3 linked regions of the Homo sapiens genome follow. The protein of the gene in region 3 interacts with the protein of the main gene of each other region in a pairwise test. Each region holds a gene or a part of one and is shown on either strand. Other genes may lie near its edges.

Region 1 (7,021 bases), on a different chromosome or scaffold from region 3:
ACTGTAATGGGGGAGTTTGGGGAAAGACCAGGGGGGATGAGCAGTGGCTTCCCCTCTTCTCTGGGACCCAGAAAGCTGAACGCAGGAGCCCCATGCTGTTTCCACGAGGGGTTTGCCTCTATTTTTAAACAAACAGGTTTCTCCCACTTTGCTTAAATATTTGAGTGTAAGATTTGTGTGATTTCTCTTTTTTGAGCTCAAAACAATTGGGGAAGATATAGCTGGCCCTGGGGGATTCCTGTTGGGAAGGCAGCGAAGTGGGAGCTCTGGCCAGTTTGCTGGGCTGAGCGGGGTGCTGGCTGATGGAGAATTGCAGGCACCAGGAACCAGCTGGAGAGTGGGATAGCCCTGTGCCCAGGGGTCCTCTCCTCGTCTGTAAGGAATCGGGGCTTCTCATTCAGTTTCGAGACAGAACTCCTTCCCAGCAGGCTGAGGAGAAATGACTCTGCGGGGCTTAGCAAATTGATTTCATTTTTAGCCAGAACTTCAAGACCTGTGATTTTATCTGTTTGCCCTTTGCATGAGGACATCTGCTTCCTAAATTCTATCAGCATAGCCCAGAGGCTGCTCAGCCACTCTGCATTCCCCAGCGAGGTGGCACTGAGTCCTTCCAGAGCCAGGACCGTGAACCTTCCTGGACCCTGAGCCCAAGGTCGGAGTGGAACAGGATCCTGTGCAGAGCCAGCCAGCCACGGGGTCAGGGAGCCAGTTGGGTCCAGCCCGCAGATGGGCTGCCACTGTTTGCACTCAGCACAACCATCCACATCTTATGGCAACATTGGAACGTTGTGCTGAAGGTCTCAAATAAGAAAAGGGAAACAAAGAGAAATCGTGATCTGAAAAGTCAAAGAACTGGGCAGACAGGAGTAGCCAAACACACAGAGCTGGGTCTTGCCCCCACATTATGTTCTAGCCACGGCTGGAGGAGGAGAGGGAGGACAGGAATCCTGGATGTGTGGTGCTTCGTGGAAAGCACACGTGGAAAGCACCTTGTTGACCTGGACAGGACTGCATTACTCACCAGATGTGGACACAGTGCCTTTACTTTTACTTATTTACAACAGCGTAACAATCGCCTCCACAGAGCATGCTGAATTCCAGGGTGCTTTCCTGAACTACCACCAGAGACTCCGCTGGAAGCTACTTGGGAGATGCCTGGGTTTCCCCATTAGCCAGTCTTAATCATTGGGAGGAACTTGCTCTCTCTCCCAGTCTCTCTCCGCATCTCTTACTGGTCATGCTCCTTGCTATCTGGTGAAATCCAGCCACCCTGTGATAGATACACACCTCTCCGCATCCAGTGTGGCATTCCAGGGTAAACAGCCTGAGCTCTGAGCCAGCCTGAAGTGTGAGGCTACATTTTAGATAGAGAAACAGCCCAGGAGTGTAAGAGCATCGTGAAGGAGGCACCCGGCGCCTCTGCTGCCCCACCCCACAGCCTTCCCTCTGGGTGTCACCCGAGCTTGTCTCCTTTAAATGTTGGCTTTTATGTTTAAGGTGTGGCTGACTCACCCTGTTGCCTCTGTCCCCAGTTTCTGGCCCAGCTGAAGCTCATGGACTACAGTCTGCTGGTGGGAATTCATGATGTGGAGAGAGCCGAACAGGAGGAAGTGGAGTGTGAGGAGAACGATGGGGAGGAGGAGGGCGAGAGCGATGGCACCCACCCGGTGGGAACCCCCCCAGATAGCCCCGGGAATACACTGAACAGCTCACCACCCCTGGCTCCCGGGGAGTTCGATCCGAACATCGACGTCTATGGAATTAAGTGCCATGAAAGTAAGTTTGATTACTGTGGACCCTTTTTGCATGTGAAGTGGTTTGACTTTGGCCTTGTTATCTACCAGTAAGCACTACCCCAGTTATGAGGGTGCTGCCCGGCAGCACTCATCCTCCAAACTCCAAAGAAATGGATTTGGGGACAAGAGTATGTTAAAGCTAACCGTGATCTCAGTGCTGAAACATAAGGCGATCGGACCTTTGAATTCTGTGATGTTGAGGGAATACAGCAAAACCACGAACTATACTATACATGTACAACACACCTGTACATATGCACATACACACTGGCATACAACGTACGTGCACACACAACACAACATGCATGTACATATGCACACATACATGTTCACAAATAACATCAGAAATGCTTTAAAATATTAATACGTTTTTGCCTAGTTATCTTTTTTATCTAAGTCAAAAGCATCATGAGTCTAAGCTAGGCACATGCATGTGATCCTCTGTGACCCTTAGCTTGTCCTCTTGTCATTACCAACAGCCCTCTCCCTCTCAGGGGTGTGAAGGGTGTGTGAAGATGGGCCCTGTGGGTGGGGTGGGAATCTGATTTGCTGCTGAGTCTGGCTCTGCTGTCCTCCCCCATGGAAGGGCCTATGGCCCTCTTCCCTAGAGTCAGATAAATCTTAATCCACCGTATCCAGGTGATTGGGTGCACCAGTTATTTGAATATTACATCCTACCTTAGCAACTTATCCGTGACAATACCAAAATATTTTTGTGATAGGATAAAAACAGCTTCTTGGTTTTTGAATAATAAAAACTGTGGCTCATCAGTTGTTTTTTAATCTCAAATGGCATATCAGCTGAGGATCTGAGTTCTGTTTTGTTCTGTTTTGCTCACCAAAATGTTTTCTTCAACACAGAAAATTAGATAGTCAAATGTACTTTTCTTACTGTTCATATTTTTGGAAATGGATAGAAAACAGACACGGGCCGGGCGCAGTGGTTCATGCCTGTAATCCCAGCACTTTGGGAGGCCGCGGCAGGCAGATCACCTGAGGTCATGAGTTTGAGACCAGCCTGACCTACATGGAGAAACCCCATCTCTACTAAAAATATGAAATTAGCTGGGCATAGTGATGCATGCCTGTAATCCCGGCTACTCGGCAGGCTGAGGCAGGAGTCACTTGAACTCGGGAGGTGGAGGTTGCTGTGAGCCAAGATCGCACCATTGCACTCCAGCCTGGGCAACAAGAACAAAACTCTGTCTCAAAAAAAGAAAATAGACATTGGAGTGGATGTATGCCTTTATCCAGTTCTGATACTGTATCCAGTGAGAATTATGAACAGTTCTACCATTTGATGTAAAGGATTAGTGTACATAATTAGTTCTGTTTTATAGGGTATTTTTAAATAGCATATTTCTTCACACCAAAGCAATACACAATTATTAAAGAAAATGCAAATTAAAAAAAAAAAAAGACTCCGTTCCACCGTTGGATCTCCACTGTTGATACCCTGGTGTGATGATGTTTTTAGTTGTTAGGGTTGTTTCTTTTTAAATTGCAGGGGGACTGGGTCAGAGAGGCAAGCTGTGTGTTTAGTCAGGATCCGCAGGGGTGGTGTAGAGTTTGTCTCTGGACTCCTTCCATCCGCGTTCCATTGAATCCCCTCCCTCCAGGCTCACTTCTCCCTCCCTCCCTCCCTCAGCAGCAATGCTGGCACTGGTGTTGTCACATGTCCCACAGTCATTGCTCTCCTGTCTCTGCAGACTCGCCTAGGAAGGAGGTGTACTTCATGGCAATTATTGACATCCTTACTCATTATGATGCAAAAAAGAAAGCTGCCCATGCTGCAAAAACTGTTAAACATGGCGTGAGTATCTCCATTTTGTTTCCTTCTCTCTTTCTCTCCCTCTCTCTCTCTCTCTCTCCCTCTCTCTCTCTCTCTCTCTCTCTCCTGGCTCCTCTGTGTGACCTGTAACTCAGGGATCACTCCTTTCTGCCACTGAGCTGCTTTCTACTGAGCCATTCAAAGCCCTTTAGTGACGCTTGTTCCCTGGGGGCAAGTCATGTTCTGAGCGTAAGATACAGAACCCACAAACGCTTACTGCTCACTGCTGCTCTTACCACAGCTCCCTGTGGCTTCCAGCGAAGTCACTTAAACATGAACATCTCTTCTTTTTACACATGGCGGACACTAACAGGCATGCGCATCACTAGGATGTTACACAAATTCTTTTTTGTTTGAAAAATGTTCCAGAGATAAAAGTGCAAAAGAAGATAATGAAGTGTTCTAATATGAAATATTCAAAACTGAAGCATGATTGTCTGCTTAAGACACTTCCCAAGTATACAGGATTAATATTTCTTTTCTCACAGTGAGTTGTATTTTTTCTACTACAGAAATCTCTTGAGTGCAAAATCAAAGTTGCATAATATTACTCACCGTTAATGTTGCTTGATGGGAGTTTTCACTGCTCTAGCCATATGTTAAGCTATTTTATCCCCCATGAGAAGCCTATGAAAGAGATAGTAGTGTACCTGCTTTTGTCAGTTGGAGAAACTGAGGAAAATAGCTTCAGGAGTAACTTGCCAGGGCCTCATAGTAGCAAGTGGCAGAGATGAGATTCCTCCCCCGGACCCAGCCCCCTCCTGGCTCTGTGTTCATGCTCATCCCCTTGCCCTGCCTGCAAACACCTCCTGCCTGGCTGAACTTTACAGCTCGCCAAGTTTCAGGCTTGTATTGCAGGGTGCCATCTTTGTTTTGCAGAGGTCCTGAAAGCCATAGAGCCCACCCCACACAGATGAATGTATTCCCTGGTTTGTTGGCCCTGGAAGAAGAGGTGCTTCCCACAGACTGTGTAGAACTAATGAAGATTCACCAGAACCAAAAACTCACTTGAAACCTCTTCTTTTCTATTTTAAAATAGAAATCAGCCTAACAAACACAGTATTCTATTTGCCAAAGAAATATTTCAGTCACATTGTCGATAGCTATGGTATTCCTGCTGTGTGCAGAGCACAGACTGGGACCTCACCGCCCCCGAGCACGTCAGTAAGCAAGTGTGCCTGGTGGCTTCCCCCCAACAGAAATTTTTGAGTACTCTTTTTAAACAAACATCCGCACCAGGTGCACCACCCCCATTCCGTCATTTCTGAGGCCAGTTCAGGAGGGTGAGGGAGGGGTCTTCAGAAGACTCCATGGTCATTCTGATGCTCACCTCTGGTTGAAAACCATGGAGTGTGGCAAAGAGAGAACTGGCGAGGAATCCTCGTTTGACCCTTCCCACTTGTATGACCTCAAGGGGACACTTTTGGAGCTCCTGTTTTTTCACCTCATACAGAAATCCTACTGCCTTGCTGATGGGGTTTTGCCAGAGATACAAGAGTTGTCTGGACAAATGCTTTGTAAATGTCTGTTCCCATATTATACATCCTGTGAAATTGGAGTGTATCCTAGCCAATATGGCTCCATGTTCATCTCTCCTATCCTAGCCAATATGGCTCCATGTTCATCTCCCCATAAGCCACAAGTTCGCCTCCATAGTGTGCCACACGGCATAAAATCACAGGTAGTTTGCAAGAAGAAAACATTACTGTCAGCAAAGGAACGCTGTGTTAAGCTGCTGTGGGGGACCATTCTCTCTGCATTCAAGCCTGGGCTCCTCCATGCAGCCGAGGCCTGGAAATATTACAAGTTCCCCGGTGAACATGGGTGTCTAAAAACAGCACATGCTCACTTAGCAAAACTCCGTGCTTGCCCTTTGCAGCTCAGGAAACTGGCCAGTGAGTGACTCCCTTGAGTGTGCTGGCCTGCACCCTGCATCTCATCATGGAAAAATCCCTCACCGTGCTTCTGCAGGGGGCCAGGCTTGCTTGCTCTCTGCAGGGCTCAGAAAGGGGAACAGTGGCACCCCTGTGTGCTGCTGCAGAGGGAAGTCAGCTCCTTCCCCCGTGGGCAAGATGGAGCCAGCAGTGTTGTGCCTCACCTGGTTACGGTGCAGGGAATGGGCTGGGGGCAGCTGTCCCAGAACCTGTGGCTGCTGCTGTTGCCCCTCATGTTTGAGCACTGAGCTGGGGGCCTCTGTCCAGAAACGAAGGGGTCCTGAAGAAATCATGCGGTTTTAAGTCATCGTCATTAAGGTTTCCCTTTCGCCAAATGTTGATGTCATTCTCAAGGTGGCTCCAGTCTGCCTTCTTGAAAAGTATAACATAAGTATTGTTTCCGTGACTTCTGAACAATTCCACTCTTTGATAGTAACATCCCAAACGTGGCCTGTTTGATTTTTTTGTGAGTTGCAACAGCCCCGGTGTGTGTGGTAGCATCTGGTGCTCCTGTCGCCCTTTGTCTCATTTGCAGACACAGATTTGTAAGAACCTTGCTTATTCAACCATGAGCGCCAAGATATTTTGAGTGATGTTTTTCAGAGCAGAGACTGCATGGATTTGAAAATTGCTTGCTGTATATTCAGTTGCCATTGGAAATAGCTGTAGATATTGAGTAATAATTTGGGGAAATCATAAACACTATGTCAATATTTCCTTTTTTAAAAACTGCCCAGGCTGGCGCGGAGATCTCCACCGTGAACCCAGAACAGTATTCAAAGCGCTTTTTGGACTTTATTGGCCACATCTTGACGTAACCTCCTGCGCAGCCTCGGACAGACATGAACATTGGATGGACAGAGGTGGCTTCGGTGTAGGAAAAATGAAAACCAAACTCAGTGAAGTACTCATCTTGCAGGAAGCAAACCTCCTTGTTTACATCTTCAGGCCAAGATGACTGATTTGGGGGCTACTCGCTTTACAGCTACCTGATTTTCCCAGCATCGTTCTAGCTATTTCTGACTTTGTGTATATGTGTGTGTGTGTGTGTTGGGGGGGGGTGAGTGTGTGCGCGCGTGTGCATTTTAAAAGTCATAAATTAATTAAAACAGATCCACTTCGGTCAGTATGTGTCCCAACAAAGACCCTTTGATTCCAGCTATGGCCGAATGAATGAGTGAGTGAGTGAGTGAGTGAATGAACACACGTGTGGGGGAGGGGAGAAGGAAGTGCATGATGTCAGGCACCGTGTTGGCATCACACAACAAACTGTGGATCAGTTTTTTTTTTTTTTTTTTTTTTTTGGAGTTGAAAGATGTGAGACAGTATTCAGAATAATGAAGATAATAATGATGATTATTATAATAATGATGATGATTCCAAGGAAAAAACCTACAGCGAATGTTCCATTTCTACCCCGCACGCAGACACTCTCCCTAACACTGATAACCTGAGCCCCC
Region 2 (7,021 bases), on a different chromosome or scaffold from region 3:
GAGGCTGAGGTGGGCGGATCACCCAAGGGCAGGCGTTCGAGACTAGCCTGGCCAACATGGTGAAACCCCATCTCTACTAAAAATACAAAGTTAGCCAGGCGTGGTGGTGCATGCCTGTAGTCCCAGCTGCTTGGGAGGCTGAGGCAGGAGAATTGCTTGAACCCGGGAGGCGAGGTTGCGGTGAGCTGAGATTGCACCATGTACTGTGGCCAGGGCAACAAGAGCAAAACTCCATGTGTTTTAAAAAAAAAAAAAAAAAAAAAAAAAAGCAAAAGAGCCAGCAGGAAAGACCATGTGTTCAAAGCCCCCTTTGGGAAGAAGGCAGAAAAGAGACAAGGTGCTTATGAGACACATGACTAACCGTGAAGCTGTTGGTCTCCCTGGGCTTGTGGAGCCCACAGGTTATTTGTGCATTGGTGAATGCGTGTCCCTGTAGCTCTTTGTGCCTTGTGATTTCCCCGACTGTTTCTCTCATGTCCCAGGCTGGATGAGTTGGGGGTAGCCTCCTTGTCTGCCCCTTTCTCTTTCCTCCTTATTTTCTAACAGTCCCCTTTGTTACATCTTCCTCCATGGCACAGTTCTTTCTATTTCCTTTGTCTTGGCTCATCCCTAGGTTACTTTTCTTTGCCTCTGATTTGTTCCCTAATAGATGTGGGCGCCCCAGCCAGAAGCAGAGAGGGGTACAGGGAAGCTACAGAGAAGCCCCTTCTGATGCCCCAGGGAGCAAGTCGACTCCTTCCAGGCTCCAGGAACACCACAAAGCAATATGAAACCTGTTCATGAAAGGAGTCAGGAATGCCTTCCACCAAAGAAACGAGACCTCCCCGTGACCAGCGAGGATATGGGGAGAACTACCAGCTGCTCCACTAACCACACACCCTCCAGTGATGCTTCTGAATGGTCCCGAGGGGTTGTGGTGGCTGGGCAGAGCCAGGCAGGAGCCAGAGTCAGCCTGGGGGGTGATGGAGCTGAGGCCATCACCGGTCTGACAGTGGACCAGTATGGCATGCTGTATAAGGTGGCTGTGCCGCCTGCCACCTTTTCACCAACTGGACTCCCATCTGTGGTGAATATGAGTCCCTTGCCCCCAACGTTTAATGTAGCGTCTTCACTAATTCAACATCCAGGCATCCACTATCCTCCACTCCACTATGCTCAGCTCCCATCCACCTCGCTGCAGTTCATTGGGTCTCCTTATAGCCTTCCCTATGCTGTGCCACCTAATTTCCTACCGAGTCCCCTCCTATCTCCTTCTGCCAACCTTGCCACCTCTCACCTTCCACACTTTGTGCCATATGCCTCACTTCTGGCTGAAGGAGCCACTCCTCCCCCACAGGCTCCCTCCCCGGCCCACTCATTTAACAAAGCTCCCTCTGCCACCTCCCCATCTGGGCAATTGCCACATCATTCAAGTACTCAGCCGCTGGACCTTGCTCCAGGTCGGATGCCCATTTATTATCAGATGTCCAGGCTACCTGCTGGGTATACTTTGCATGAAACCCCTCCAGCAGGTGCCAGCCCAGTTCTTACCCCTCAGGAGAGCCAGTCTGCTCTGGAAGCAGCTGCTGCAAATGGAGGACAGAGACCACGAGAGCGAAATTTAGTAAGACGGGAAAGTGAAGCCCTTGACTCCCCCAACAGCAAGGGTGAAGGCCAGGGACTGGTGCCAGTGGTAGAATGTGTGGTGGATGGACAGTTGTTTTCAGGTTCTCAGACTCCACGGGTAGAGGTAGCAGCACCAGCACACCGGGGGACCCCGGACACTGACCTTGAGGTCCAGCGGGTGGTTGGCGCTTTAGCTTCTCAGGACTATCGTGTGGTGGCAGCTCAGAGGAAGGAGGAACCCAGCCCCCTCAACCTATCCCATCATACCCCCGACCATCAGGGTGAGGGGCGAGGGTCAGCCAGGAACCCTGCAGAGCTGGCAGAGAAAAGTCAGGCCCGTGGGTTCTACCCTCAGTCCCATCAGGAACCAGTAAAACATAGACCTTTACCCAAAGCAATGGTTGTAGCCAATGGCAACCTGGTGCCCACTGGAACTGACTCAGGCCTGCTGCCTGTGGGCTCGGAGATCCTGGTAGCATCAAGTCTGGACGTGCAGGCCAGAGCCACCTTCCCAGACAAGGAGCCAACGCCGCCCCCCATTACCTCCTCTCACTTGCCTTCCCATTTCATGAAAGGCGCCATCATCCAGCTGGCTACGGGAGAGCTGAAGCGGGTGGAGGACCTCCAGACCCAGGATTTTGTGCGCAGTGCCGAAGTGAGCGGGGGGCTGAAGATTGACTCTAGCACGGTCGTGGACATTCAGGAGAGCCAATGGCCTGGATTTGTCATGCTGCATTTTGTGGTTGGTGAGCAGCAGAGCAAAGTGAGCATCGAAGTGCCCCCCGAGCACCCCTTCTTTGTATATGGCCAGGGTTGGTCCTCTTGCAGCCCTGGGCGGACGACACAACTCTTCTCTCTGCCCTGCCATCGGCTACAGGTGGGAGATGTCTGCATCTCTATCAGTTTACAGAGCTTGAACAGTAACTCAGTTTCTCAGGCCAGCTGTGCTCCCCCAAGCCAGCTGGGTCCCCCCCGAGAAAGGCCTGAGAGGACGGTCTTGGGATCCAGAGAGCTATGTGACAGTGAGGGGAAGAGCCAGCCGGCAGGAGAGGGCTCCCGTGTGGTAGAGCCTTCCCAGCCTGAGTCCGGTGCTCAGGCCTGCTGGCCAGCCCCGAGCTTCCAAAGATACAGCATGCAAGGGGAGGAGGCACGGGCTGCGCTGCTCCGTCCCTCTTTCATTCCACAGGAGGTAAAGCTGTCCATTGAAGGGCGTTCCAATGCGGGAAAATGAACCTCTTCCCCAGACCAGGACTGGGGCTTTACCCCAGAGCCTCGCCTCGCCGCCGTGAGCAGGCAGAGGATTTGCACACGCCGAGCAGGGAATGGCTTTCTTGGCAGTGAGATTTGGGGGAAAGGGGAGGCATGAAGTCAGCCTCCCAAGGCAGGATCTGTTGTTCATTACCCCATGGCATCCTTTCAGGACAACCCCAGAGGGTGTTGTGATGGGGAGCAGCAGGCCTGGGGCAAGGAAGGAAGGGGGTGCACACAGGAGAAGAAACATTCCAAAATCAGGGCCTCCCTGTTCTTTCCTCCCCATCCCTAGCTCCTGCAAGAGAAAGTCCAGGCTTTGGGAGCAGATGGCAGAGGGAGGGAGTAAAGAAAGAGCCAAAAATGATGATCCACAGCTTATAGTAGCAGTTAAACTGTCAGAAGTTTTTTTTCTTTTTTGTGGTAGAAGGGCAGGAGGCCCCAAGGTTGGAAATAAGAGGGTTCCCACCCAGAACCCTTCTTGTGAGAGATGCGCACTTTAAAGGGTGATTTTGTTCCAGATGTCTATGGCTGGGTGTGTGGGGGAGGAGCACTCTCATCTGCAGGACTCTGCTTGATCCTCTGCTTCATAGCCCTTCCCCATCTCTCCTCACCATTCTGCCTACAAGGCTTCTAGCAGCACGGGGGCCCGGAGGGAGAGCCCCTTCAGGGTTCAGAGTGAAGTACTACCTTGCCAGGGACTCAGTCAGGGGACTTTGGGAGAAAGACTTGATAGCCAGGCTGACTGGGTTCTAGGCAGGCCCTCTGGAAAGGTAGCTCACCTAACAAAGCTCCTCCATCTCAGCATGCCAGACCCACTTTGAAATCTCACAGAATCTTGCTGGTAATGGTGACTTTAGAACTAGTAGACCCTTTTTCCCAGGCACTGACCCCCCACCTTTGTCTGTGTTGTGCCCAAGTGCCTGCGCCACCCCCACCCTCCTGCTGCGCTGACCGCTGCATGGTGTCGTGACCTGGGCCTCATTTGTAGCTGCACTGCCTTTCCTTGTCTGCAAAGTTGGTTTTGTCCACTCTGACCAAGACCTCTAGTTTTTGGTGGGTAGGGGGTCTCTCTGGTTTCCCCTTCAGCTATAATCTCTATTTTTAAAATCTCAAAATCATGTCCCCTCCACTTCCACTGCCAAACAGCTTGGTGAAGAAACAAGAAGGGAACTATGCCCTGGGCCAGGGCGAATGCGTGGCTGGGCAGTGCCCATCATGGCATTTTCACATGTCCCATATGCCCCTCCTGTCTTATTCCACTGCTTCTCCCAGCATTCTGGTGCCTCCAAGCCATCCCCTCCCACCACCAGCTCTAAGATTCTAGGATAGTCTTGATAACATTTCAGTACCTGAATAGATGTCATTTTGTGTTGGTATATTCCTCTGCAAAAAGTATTTTCAATCTTGGTTGCATTGGCACCCCCCCTACCCCCCACCAATGTCTTAATCCCACATTTTCTTCACAACTTTTAGCATCAGCTCAGACCGTGGGGTTCCACTGGGTATTGGGAATTAGGCTCCCCCACTAGCTTTCAGGTGGGTAAGTTTTTTTGTTTGTTTTTTGGGGGTCTTTAGACTCTTGAAGGCAACTCAGGGTATTGTCCACGCAGCTCTCTGGTTAGACTTCTCCCAGGCTATGATCCTGGCATGTCCTTTATAAGGTATACTTGGATTGGCCGAGACCTGGCCTGGCATCAGGAGTCCAAACCTCTGAGGTCTGATCTCTGCTCTGTCAAGGACTTTCGGCAAGTCTCGTGACCTCTGGCTCTTTCACTTCCTCCCCACCTGCCAAATGGGGATAAATAATCTTACCTACCTCCTGGGGGGAGGGGAAGTTCTGAGAATGGAGTCATTCTTAGTGTTCAGGTGCTAAAGGTTGTTCTCCTGGGGGAACAGAGTGACTGAAACTGGCTTGTTTGCTACAAGCCCTACCCTCCACTCTTTCATTCCTTGAAAGCAGTTTGCCTGGTCAGTCAGCTTTTGGGGGTCCATCAAAGGAGGTTGCTGACCTGACCGTGAGTGCTTCAGTATCTGGTTTGTGTCAGAACCAGACGCCAACTTTGTACTGCATTTGGGATCATATCTTTCCCCTTCTCTGTCCCCCATTCTCTGAATGCTGCTTTCTCTGGCTTGTTTCCTACAGTGGGGGCCTGTGGGGTTGAGTCTTGAGGAATCCCCTCAAATGAGAAGGCCTTGGGAGAAGGCCTCATCTCTGGCTGTTTCATGAGCAACTCATTCCTAGAGTTCATTGTTTGCATGGGTTTCTCACAAGCGTCCTTCCTCATAGGAAGGCTCATCAACTGAATTTAGTGACATGTACACAGTAGATGCTCAAGCAGTGTCTGCAAGGACACAAGCTGAGCTTTCTCCTTATGGGGCAAACCTATGTCTAACCAGATACAGACCAATTAGTTTAGATCAAATCACCTTCCACTTGGGCTACTTGTGACTTTCCAACCTGGTAACTTCCACTGAATTCTGGAAAGAGAAATTCTTGAGGACCCTGGCAAGTTGGGCCCTGACCTTTCTGTTGCTGTCTCTTGCTGGTGAAGCAATACCAGCAGTTCCTGTAATACCACAATATCGTTCCATGCATATATAACATATTAATACTTGATTTTGCTGAGCTGCAAAGGTATCTGTCATAAAATATGGTCCCCAGGAAAAGAATCTCTGTGCTCTAAATCTCGGTCAGAGCTGTGGCCTCCCCCTTGCCTTTAACCTCTAGTTTAGTCTTTTCCTCCAGGCATGAAAAATATGACTAACCTGTGGTGTGTCCATTCTTCCTTATAGGAATTTCCTGAGTTTGCAGGAGACATGAGAGCAGTTTTTAGCGAGTATTTTAGTGGGAAGTTGCCAACTTTTTAAGAATGAGCAGTTGACAAGGGCCAGAGCCTGTCCCTTGTCAGCAGTAGGACATTTCCAGCTCTTAGGAATAGAAAGGAGGACTGCTGACTGTCTGGCGCTGTATAAAAATGTGTATACCAATTTGGGAATAGGGGAACCCAGTCATGGATGGATAATAAGCCAAGTCTTGAATCATTCCTATCAAGATTAGTATACATGAGGAAGAGGTGGCATGGGGGGAAGGGGCTCTGGGAGTTCAGAGCTGAGTACTTGTACCTGAGGGAGGGCCCCCAGCCAATCTGGGCTGGTCCTTCTATATTCTTGGTCCCAGTTGGTCATAACACCAAGGGCTTTGCCCTGCGCTGCTTTGCCACTGCTGCTGTCCGCTCACTGTCCTGCCTGCTGTCCTCTACAGCTCCCTATCCTTCCATGTCTTTGGCCATGTAGATTAAGTGTAGGCGTCCGGTTCATTCTTACCTGTGTTAGGCCATGTTATTTTATAGCGAAGTCATGTTCGATAGGGATGGTATGAAATGCTGCTGGTGGGCTGGTAAATCCAAAGGGATAAGGCTTCAGTGCTGTTGGGAGCCCTCTGGCTCCAAATGTCTGACTATCTTGAGGGAGAAACAAGCAGGTTTCTACTAGTGGTGTCTTCTGTTGTATTAACTTCTTTCCTTTGTGGTATCTTGTATCCTGTTTTAAAAACTAAATGAAGGGAACCACATTAGGGCCCATGCCAGCATCCCAGTGAAGTTCGTCCAGCTCCAGTTAGGTGGATTCTGGAGTTCGGAGAGGGTTTAAAGTTTGGCTGAAATAGCACCTCAAGTGGGGTTTAGTTTTATTTTTACCTGCGGGCATCATGGGCGATTTAGGGGGAAGCACAGGATGGTGGTGTGGTTTAAACCTGCAGCAAGCAGGCATGTTGAAGAGTTGAGTGATCACGCTGGAGATGAAGGGTTGGACATGGATTGACTGGGAAAAGGCCTGGGTCCATTGGAGTAAAGATAACCTAGTCGATTGAATTGGCCATGGGAAGTTAGGTCACAGTCTTATAAACAAAGTAAATAGGACAGAGACTAAGTTTTAGGGAGACATCTTGGCCTCCTAGGCTAAGTTTACTAAACCACACTGAAGCTATAGTACCTTCCAGATGGGCAAAAGTGTACACTACAGTTGAGGAGCTGAACCTTATTAGGTTGGATGTCGATCAGGAACCTGTTTGCCCTTTGCTGGGAAGCCTTCACTCTCCAGCTTTCCTGGGGTAGGGAAGGTCTCCCACATTATGCAATAATAAAATAAGCATCTGGGTCTTTGCAGC
Region 3 (7,989 bases):
TGAAACCCCATCTCTACTAAAAATACAAAAATTAGCCGGGCACGGTGGCAGGTGGCTATAATCCCAGCTACTCGGGAGGCTGAGGCAGGAGGATCACTTGAACCCAGGAGGCAGAGTCTGCAGTGAGCCGAGATCACACCACTGCACTCCAGCCTGGGTGACAGACCGAGACTCCATCTCAAATAAATAAATAAATAAATAATAAAGGCAGTGTTGAATGAGCAGGTCACCCTGTGGACAATGAGGTCTCCATCCTGCTGGGGACCTCTCAGGGAACTCTGGAGTTCCCCACCTGAAGACTTTGGGTTATGTATCCACTAACTCCTGTCTGATGGTGGCCCAGGACCTCTTTAGGGGTGCTGACTTCTAGCGCCTCCTACCCTGGTCTGGAAAGCATTCAGGGAAGGGTCGCAGGTGCCAGCGTGAGAGATGCTGTTGGGTCCTAGGTGGTATGAGTGGGTCAGAGACAGCCTCTGCTATGATTACTTCCCAGAACGGGGGTCTCACTACCTCCCTCTTCCAGTAAGGCAATGGGTGGCCACCAGCACAGCACTGACTGTGCCCAGGTTGCCCTCTCTCCTGGTCTGATGCCCCCAGCTCCCTCCTCGGCCTCTCCCAGGGAATCGGGAAGGGTTGGTACCTGGCATCTCCTCCACGTTCTGCCGTCCCCCTGAGGATTGAAATCAGACACTAGGGAGGACTTCCAGGCACACATGGCCAAAGGAGAGAGGGATGAGGCTCCAGGCTTCAGTGCCTCCCAAGGTACCTCCTCACTCTCTCCTTCTCGCCACCTTTGCCTCCCGTTCCCTGCCTGCTCCCTGCAATTCTCTCCCTGGGGAAGTGCGGGGAAGGGAATGTCATGGGTGGTGGATTGAAAGGGGTAGGTGGGGTCAGTAGAGGGGGAACACAGACGGTGGAGGAGGTGGAGAAGGGACACAAAAAGAGGAGGGGAAGTTGGAGAGGGAGCAGAGAGCCAAGAACAAAACACAGGGGCCGGAGAGGCAGCAGAGACAGAGATACAGACAGGATGCAGAGAAGATGCAGACGGAGGAAGCCCAGAGACTCAGAACACAGCACCAGGGAGGAGAGCGAGGTGGGGAGCGGGGCGGGGCGGGCGTCCCAGGGCGCCAGGGCAAGACCCTCACCCCATTCCCAGCACACAAAGCCAGTGAGGCCAACGCCGAGGGTACTCTCAGAGACCAGAGATTTAAAAGGCACGGCTGGGCCGACAGAGCCCATGGCAGACAGAGGGACATGGAGAGACAGGGAGAGAGACACACAGAGACAGAGGGAGAGACAGAGAGAGATGGAGAGACAGAGAGAGATGGAGAGACAGAGAGAGAGGGAGGGACAGAGAGAGAAATGGAGAGACAGAGAGAGACAGAGACAGAGAGAAATGGAGAGACAGAGAGATGGTGAGACAGACAGAAATGGAGAGACAGACCCCAAGAGGGAGAGACAGAGAGAGATGGAGAGAGAGGGAGAGACAGAGAGAGAGGGAGAGAGAGGGAGAGACAGAAAGAGAGAGACAGAGAGAAATGGAGAGACAGAGAGGGAGAGATAGAGATGAAGAGACAGAGAAGGAGAGACACAGAGAGAAATGGAGAGACAGAGAGCAAGAGGGAGAGACAGATGGAGAGAGAGGTAGAGACAGAGAGATGGAGAGACAGAGAAAGAAATGGAGAGACAGAGAGGGAGAGACAGAGATGAAGAGACAGAGAGAGAAGGAGAGACAGAGAGAGATAGAGAGACAGAGATGGAGAGACAGAGAGAGATGGAGAGACAGAGAGATGGAGAGACAGAGAGAGAGGGAGAGACAGAGATGGAGAGACAGAGAGAGAGGGAGCAACAGAGAGATGAAGAGACACAGAGAGGGAGAGACAGAGGGAGAGACAGAGTGGAGAGACAGAGAGAGAGATGGAGAGGCAGAGAGGGAGAGACAGAGAGAGATGAGAGACAGAGAGGGAGAGACAGACGGGCAGAGACAGAGAGATACAGTTATAGAGAGACACAGAGACAGAGTCAGAACTGGAAAGAGACTCAGTAAGAGAGAGACAGAGACAGAAGGAGAGAAGGAGAGAGGGTGAGGAAAAGGAGGATGAGGAGGAGGACGGACCGGAGACAGGACCCAGAGGCACAGCGAGAAACTGGCAGAGGAAAGCAGATTCCAACAAAAAAGACGGAGAGGGCGAGGAGAGATAGAAAGGGAAGGAAAAGAGGGAGAGAGGGGTCTCGGTGGGAGCCGCAGCCTGTGCCCCGCCCCCCGCCCGGGTCAGGCCGGGTCCTTCCCGCCACCGCTGAGCCGTGGCTAATGGTATGATTGCTTGGTGGGGCGGGAGGGGAAGGGGGCGGCAGGCATTTGTCAGGGCCGGTGACGAATGAGCCACAGGAGTCTGGGCTCGGGTGATGGATGGCGTGGCCAGCGGGCGGAGGGGCGGGCGCAGGGGTGGGCGCCCCCACCAAGATAAATGTTTCCTTCTCCTGGAGCTGGGCCAGGCAGCGGGAGGACGGGAAGGGGGCGATGTATTTATGAAGGGCCCGGGTGGAGGAGAGGGGAGAGAGCCAGGGAGACAGAAGCCCAGGGAGGATACGGTGGGGGGGACAGGGAGGCGGAGAGAGGGAGAGGAAGGAGGGAGAAGAGACAGAGGCCCCTGGAGAGAGAGACCGAGAAAGATGGAGAGAAAGAGAGATAAGAAAGATGAGGCAGAGAAGACATCCAGACAAAGAGACACAGAGATACAAGAAAAAAAAAAAAAGCCAGGAGACAGACAGACAGACACAGCCCAGGTGACAGACAGACAGACATAGCCCAGGCGGAGATGGAGACAGAGACGGCCTGTCTTTTAGGGTCCCTTCTTCCCCCACCCTCCTGAGCAGAGACACAGATTCTCAGAGAGAGCCTGGAATGAGGAGGAGGAAGCAAACCTGGGCCCCCAGAAGGAGAGAGACAGACACAGAGCGGTTGATAAAGAGGGGAAACCGAGGCAGGAGGCTAGCAGGCCCGAGAGAGAGGACAGGAGGAACCCAAGGTGGATCCTCGTTCATTCGGTCTGCTCCTGTAGGCTTTCAGAGGGGATCCTGGGGACCACTGCGGATCCCCGGGGGACGTGGCTGCCTGGTGGGCATAGCCCCAGTGGTCGGTGCTCAGGTTGGGGCACTGAAGGGCCAGTCCGCTGAGAGATCGCCCAGCCCGTGCTGGGGAGACCCATGAGGTCCCCCAGATCTACTCATAGAGGGCTCCACGCTTCCCGTCTGTAAAACAGGTGCAGGACAGGGCTAGAGGGCGGAGACCCCTGCAGACTGGGAGCTGGGGTCACTCTGATGCCACCCAGGGAGCCACTCAGCCGGGCAGGGAAGACGCTTCCAGACACTGTCACAGGGAGGCCCAAGCACACCCTCGAAGAGCCGACAGGCAGCCGCGACGCAGTGACACAGGCACCCCCGCTCCAGCACCAGGCCTGGCCGCCACCTGCTCCCTCCCCCTGGGAACAGAAGGGTCCCAGGACTATTTAAGGGAGACAGCCAGGAAGAGAGAGAGAGAGAGAGAGAGAGAGAGAGAGAGTGTGTGTGTGTGTGTGTGTGTGTGTGTGTGAGAGAGAGAGAGAGAGAGCGAGAGACAGAGACGGACAGACAGACGGATGGACAGACAGAGGGAAAGACTGGAGGAAGAGCCTCAGAAAGCCGGAGCCTCCCCCCTGCTCCCTCCGTCCCCCGCCGGCATCCTCCATCCTCCCCCAATCAATTTCTCTCCCACACACTTATTTCTCCCTTCCCAACAGCTCGTCTCTTTCTTTAATTAGAAAGATTTATGCTTCAGAGTCCAAGCCCCCTGCTCTTGTTTTGGGGGTGGCAGGGACGACTCCAGGGTCTCTATTGGAGCTCCTGTCCCCCACTCCCTCCCCCTCCTGTCTGTCTCACTCTGTCTGCACCTCTCTCTCTCTCTCCTCCCACCCGCGTCTGTCTCTGTCTCTCTCTCTCTCTGAATCACACCGTCACTGGAGTTACCTCCCTCCCCACTCCAGTTAGGCCCCATCCCCATCCCAGGTGCCCCCTCCCTCCCTTCCTGCTCTGTCCACGCCCCCCACCACTGGCCGTCAGATGAGGCCGCACTTGCTCCTCTAGGTTTCAGAATCAGCCTGGGCTAAGGGGACCTTAGCATGCACCACCCCCCAAAAAAGCAAATAGAGCCAGAGACTCCTAACCCTTGCATCCCTCACCCCAAGTCTTGGCTGAGGGTGAGGTGGGGGTGGAGCAGACCAAAGGGCCTTGTGTCTTTAATTAAAAAGTGATTTAAATTAATTTTCTGCTCCAAAACCCCTATCTGGGGTGCGCCGGCCTTGAGGAAAGGCAAGGCCTCCAGACCCTTCCCCTCGGACTGCCTTAAACGGCCAGCCTCACCGCAGGACAGCCACGGGGGCAGAGCCCGCCGGCATGGGGACCCCCAGACTCAGCCAAGACCCTGAGTCCTGGCACCCTCTAGCTTAACTGTTTCTCCGTTATCCACAGCCCACCCCCGCCGCCCCCAGCGCACTGCCCATCCTGCAGAGGGGGAATCGAGCCTCAGAGAGGGGAGAGCCTACGGTGGGACCAGACTCCAGATTCCCACGTGACCCCTGGAGATGGCCAGGGAGGGGGTCCGTGGTGTGTCCAGGGGGCTCGGAGAACAGAGAGCCAGAGGAGAGAAAGGACGGGAGAAGCGGAGACAGAGAGAGACAAGGAGAGAGAGACTGGGAAAGAGGGAGACTGAGAAACCCGGAGCAGGAACCCCAGCCCTGGGTAGGAGAGGAGGGGCCTGGGGGCACCAGGGCCGCGGTCTCTTCCTCTCCTCCCCCCACAGCCTGCCCCTCCCCGACTCCCACCGGAAGTGCTGCTGCTGCCCTAACCCCAATCCCTCGTGCTGTAGCTCTGCAGGCTCACTCTGGCTCATCCCCTATCCCGCTCCTTGGTGGTTCTGTTTAATTTCCACAAGACAAGGGAGAGACCGGGAACGGGGAGCGCGGCTGCCAGCACCCCTGAGCCGCCGCCGGACCCTCCGTCGCCCCGGGCCGCCCCCCGCCCCCTGCGGTCCCCGGTGTGTCCGTCTCGGGACGGTTCGATTCCCTCCAGAGCCGGGGAAGGGACGGGGGGGGCCCAGAGGAGGGGGCCTCGGGCGCCCCGCCTGCGCCTGCTGCCCCCGCCCCGGCGGCGATGCGCTCCTGGCCGTGACCCCCGCTGGGGGCGGGGGCCGGGGTCCATGCGCGGAGTCCCCACCCGGCCCGGCGCCTGCCGCTGACGGCGGCGGGGGTGGGGGGGCGCGCGCCTGGCCTCCTGCCCACCCCCTGGCGTCAACACCGCGGGCCGTCAGGGGCTGCGGCCCCGGGCTGCGCCCTCCCCCGCGGCCAGGCTCTGGAGGGACCCAGGAGCTGCCGCCGGCCTCAGCCCATGGCCCGGAGGGTAGGTCTCGGGGCGGGGACCCCGCGTCCCGGCCGCTTCCGCACCCCCTGTCCCTGCATCCCCCACTCTCCGGCGCTGGCCCCCATTAGCCCATCCGTCCTCTACACCACCTCGCTCTCTCTCTGCCCCTCCCTCCGCCCCTGGGTCTCCCAGTCCCTGTGTGCCCCCTCTCTGCCCCCAAGTGTCTCTTCCTGGCCCTCGGCCTCGCCTCCTCCCCATCGTTTAGCTTCTCCTTCTCCCTGCCCCTCTGTCCCCCTCTGTCTGCCCCACTCTCCTCCTCCTTTCTGCCTCTCTGTCCCCCTCTCTCTGTCCCTGGTCTCCCCCCTCTTTCTGCCTCTCTATCCCCCTCTCTCTGCCCTCCCCCACCCGCAGTCTCTCTCCTCTGTTCCTGGGCTTCCTCCTCCATCTCAGCCGCCCGCACCTCACCGTCCCCCCTTTTTTCTGCTCTCCTCCGTCCTTCCCTTCGCTCTACTTTTGTTCCAAGCCGCCCCTGCCTCTCCAGGGCTAGGAGTGGGACAGGGGTGGGAGAGGTGGTCTCACCAGGCTGCTGGCCCCACGGAGCCTGTCTCCCTGGGGATGGGAACGGGGATAGAAGACAGGGGAGGAGGCGCGCGCCCGTTTTGGGGGTTCCGGGTAGGCTGTGAGGACCGCTTTTGGTGAGAGTGCCTTGAGCAGCGGGGAGCAGTTGGATTCAACTTCAGGGCACAGGAGAAGTTAGGAGAAGAGGGAGAGGGAAAGAGTGGGACACACAGAACCAGGGTGCCCAGCCAGGCGAGGGTCCGAGGCAGGAACGTTCTAGCCTCTTCCCGTGCGAGTCCTGCTGCCTCTTTGAGCCTCCGTGTCTTCATCACTGAGGAAGGGATTTGACCTGATGAGAGGAAGGTGCCCCTGGCTTCCCAGGTGCATGGTTCTGTGACGACAGGACGCGGTCGTCCTACCCCATAATGGTGTTTCTCTTGGGTGCGCAATCGTGTCTGTATGGTGGTGCGGAGTGACCCTCTCCGGCAACAAGTGCTCACAGCATGAGCCAGGCCCTGTGCTAAATGCCTCATTCATTCATTCATCCATGTGCCAAATGTCTCAATCATGCATTCATTCTTGTGCCTGGTGTTGGGCTGTGTGCATGTGTGTGTGCATGTGTGTGTGGGGGGGGGGATTTGGGTGTGACTGACACATGAGTGTGCACGTGGGTTGGTGTGTATGGCTGTGTCTACATGTGTGGTAGATTCACGTGGCGAGTGGAGTGTGACATGTTGTTGAGACTTACTCTGATGCGCTTATCTGCCAACTGTGAAATGAAATAGAAGACAGGGAGGCTTCGTATGTGTACTTTGTGTACAACAATGCGCGGTTCCTACAGGAGGTGTCCATGGATCTCCCTCTCTGTCTGTCTCTCTCTCTGTCTCTGTCACTGTCTTCTCACGCCACTTTCTCCATCTCTTTTCCCTCCCAGCCAGACCCTGCCGTCTCTCCCTCTGGGTCCTCCTGCCCACATGTCAGGAATCTCTGCCTGGACGGGGTCCTCACTCCCCACCGAGGCAGCTCCAGGGGACCTGGAGGGCTTCAAGCTTGGGGGCTCAGACACCTGGGGACCACAGGCAGGTTTCTGGGACACAGAAGGGCATCTCCTGGGTTCCAGGATAGAGAAGCTCCTCAGCCGAGTCTCGGGGTGCTGACCCCTCCCTGGGGCTCCGCCCTTCTCTTCTCACCTTCCCCCAGTATGATGAGCTGCCGCACTACCCAGGCATCGTGGATGGCCCCGCAGCCCTGGCTAGCTTCCCAGAGACAGTGCCCGCAGTACCAGGGCCCTATGGCCCGCACCGGCCTCCCCAGCCCCTGCCCCCAGGCTTGGACAGCGACGGCCTGAAGAGGGAGAAGGATGAGATCTATGGGTGAGTGGGGCCGGGTCTCAGGCTCCTGTCTCTCTCTCTCTGTCTTTCTGCTTCTTTGCTCCCTGGGTCTGCTTCTGTCTCTCTCTGTGTACGAGTCTCTGTCTCCTTCCCTCTCTGGGTCTCTTGTCCCCTCCCCAGCTGTTCTGCATCTTGGCAGCCCCTCCATCCACCTCCCAGCCTCTCCCTCAACCTCTCTCCTTTCCTGCCTCCCCAGACACCCGCTCTTCCCCCTCTTGGCCCTGGTCTTTGAGAAATGTGAACTGGCTACATGCTCTCCCCGTGACGGGGCCGGAGCTGGGCTGGGGACACCCCCTGGAGGTGACGTCTGCTCCTCTGATTCCTTCAACGAGGACATCGCTGCCTTTGCCAAGCAGGTGGGCACCTCCCACCCACCACACACCGAGTCAGAGAGCCAGCGAGGAGGGGTGGGTGGAAGGCGGGACATCCCCCTGCCGGCCTCTCTCTTCCCTCCCAGGTTCGCTCTGAGAGGCCCCTCTTCTCCTCCAACCCAGAACTGGACAATCTGGTGAGACCCGAGCCCTCCCCCACACCCCCTCCTCCAATGGGTCTCCTTCCCTGACGCCCCATCCCTGGGGTTGGTGGGGGGGGTGCAGAGAGAAGGCCACCTGGTCCATGTCCCCAAACCGTCATGATTGTTGCCCAC

Evidence for each region. The genes of interacting proteins can lie anywhere in the genome.
Region 1: the proteins of MEIS3 (region 3) and PIP4K2A interact in binary tests that used the Homo sapiens proteins (3 or more experiments, as listed by UniProt).
Region 2: the proteins of MEIS3 (region 3) and ATXN1L interact in binary tests that used the Homo sapiens proteins (3 or more experiments, as listed by UniProt).

The regions. Positions count from the first base shown.
Region 1 is NC_000010.11:22,536,559-22,543,579, reverse strand, and holds part of PIP4K2A (phosphatidylinositol 5-phosphate 4-kinase type-2 alpha), read left to right. Parts: intron 1-1,532; coding exon 1,533-1,776; intron 1,777-3,505; coding exon 3,506-3,609; intron 3,610-6,298; coding exon 6,299-6,379; 3' UTR 6,380-7,021. UniProt on the Homo sapiens protein: Catalyzes the phosphorylation of phosphatidylinositol 5-phosphate (PtdIns5P) on the fourth hydroxyl of the myo-inositol ring, to form phosphatidylinositol 4,5-bisphosphate (PtdIns(4,5)P2). Has both ATP- and GTP-dependent kinase activities.
Region 2 is NC_000016.10:71,848,975-71,855,995, forward strand, and holds part of ATXN1L (ataxin-1-like), read left to right. Parts: intron 1-649; 5' UTR 650-766; coding exon 767-2,836; 3' UTR 2,837-7,021. UniProt on the Homo sapiens protein: Chromatin-binding factor that repress Notch signaling in the absence of Notch intracellular domain by acting as a CBF1 corepressor. Binds to the HEY promoter and might assist, along with NCOR2, RBPJ-mediated repression.
Region 3 is NC_000019.10:47,416,514-47,424,502, reverse strand, and holds the start of MEIS3 (homeobox protein Meis3), read left to right. Parts: upstream 1-4,975; 5' UTR 4,976-5,421; coding exon 5,422-5,433; exon of another isoform or gene 5,434-6,755; coding exon of another isoform or gene 6,756-7,031; intron 7,032-7,152; coding exon 7,153-7,325; intron 7,326-7,539; coding exon 7,540-7,699; intron 7,700-7,800; coding exon 7,801-7,851; intron 7,852-7,989. UniProt on the Homo sapiens protein: Transcriptional regulator which directly modulates PDPK1 expression, thus promoting survival of pancreatic beta-cells. Also regulates expression of NDFIP1, BNIP3, and CCNG1.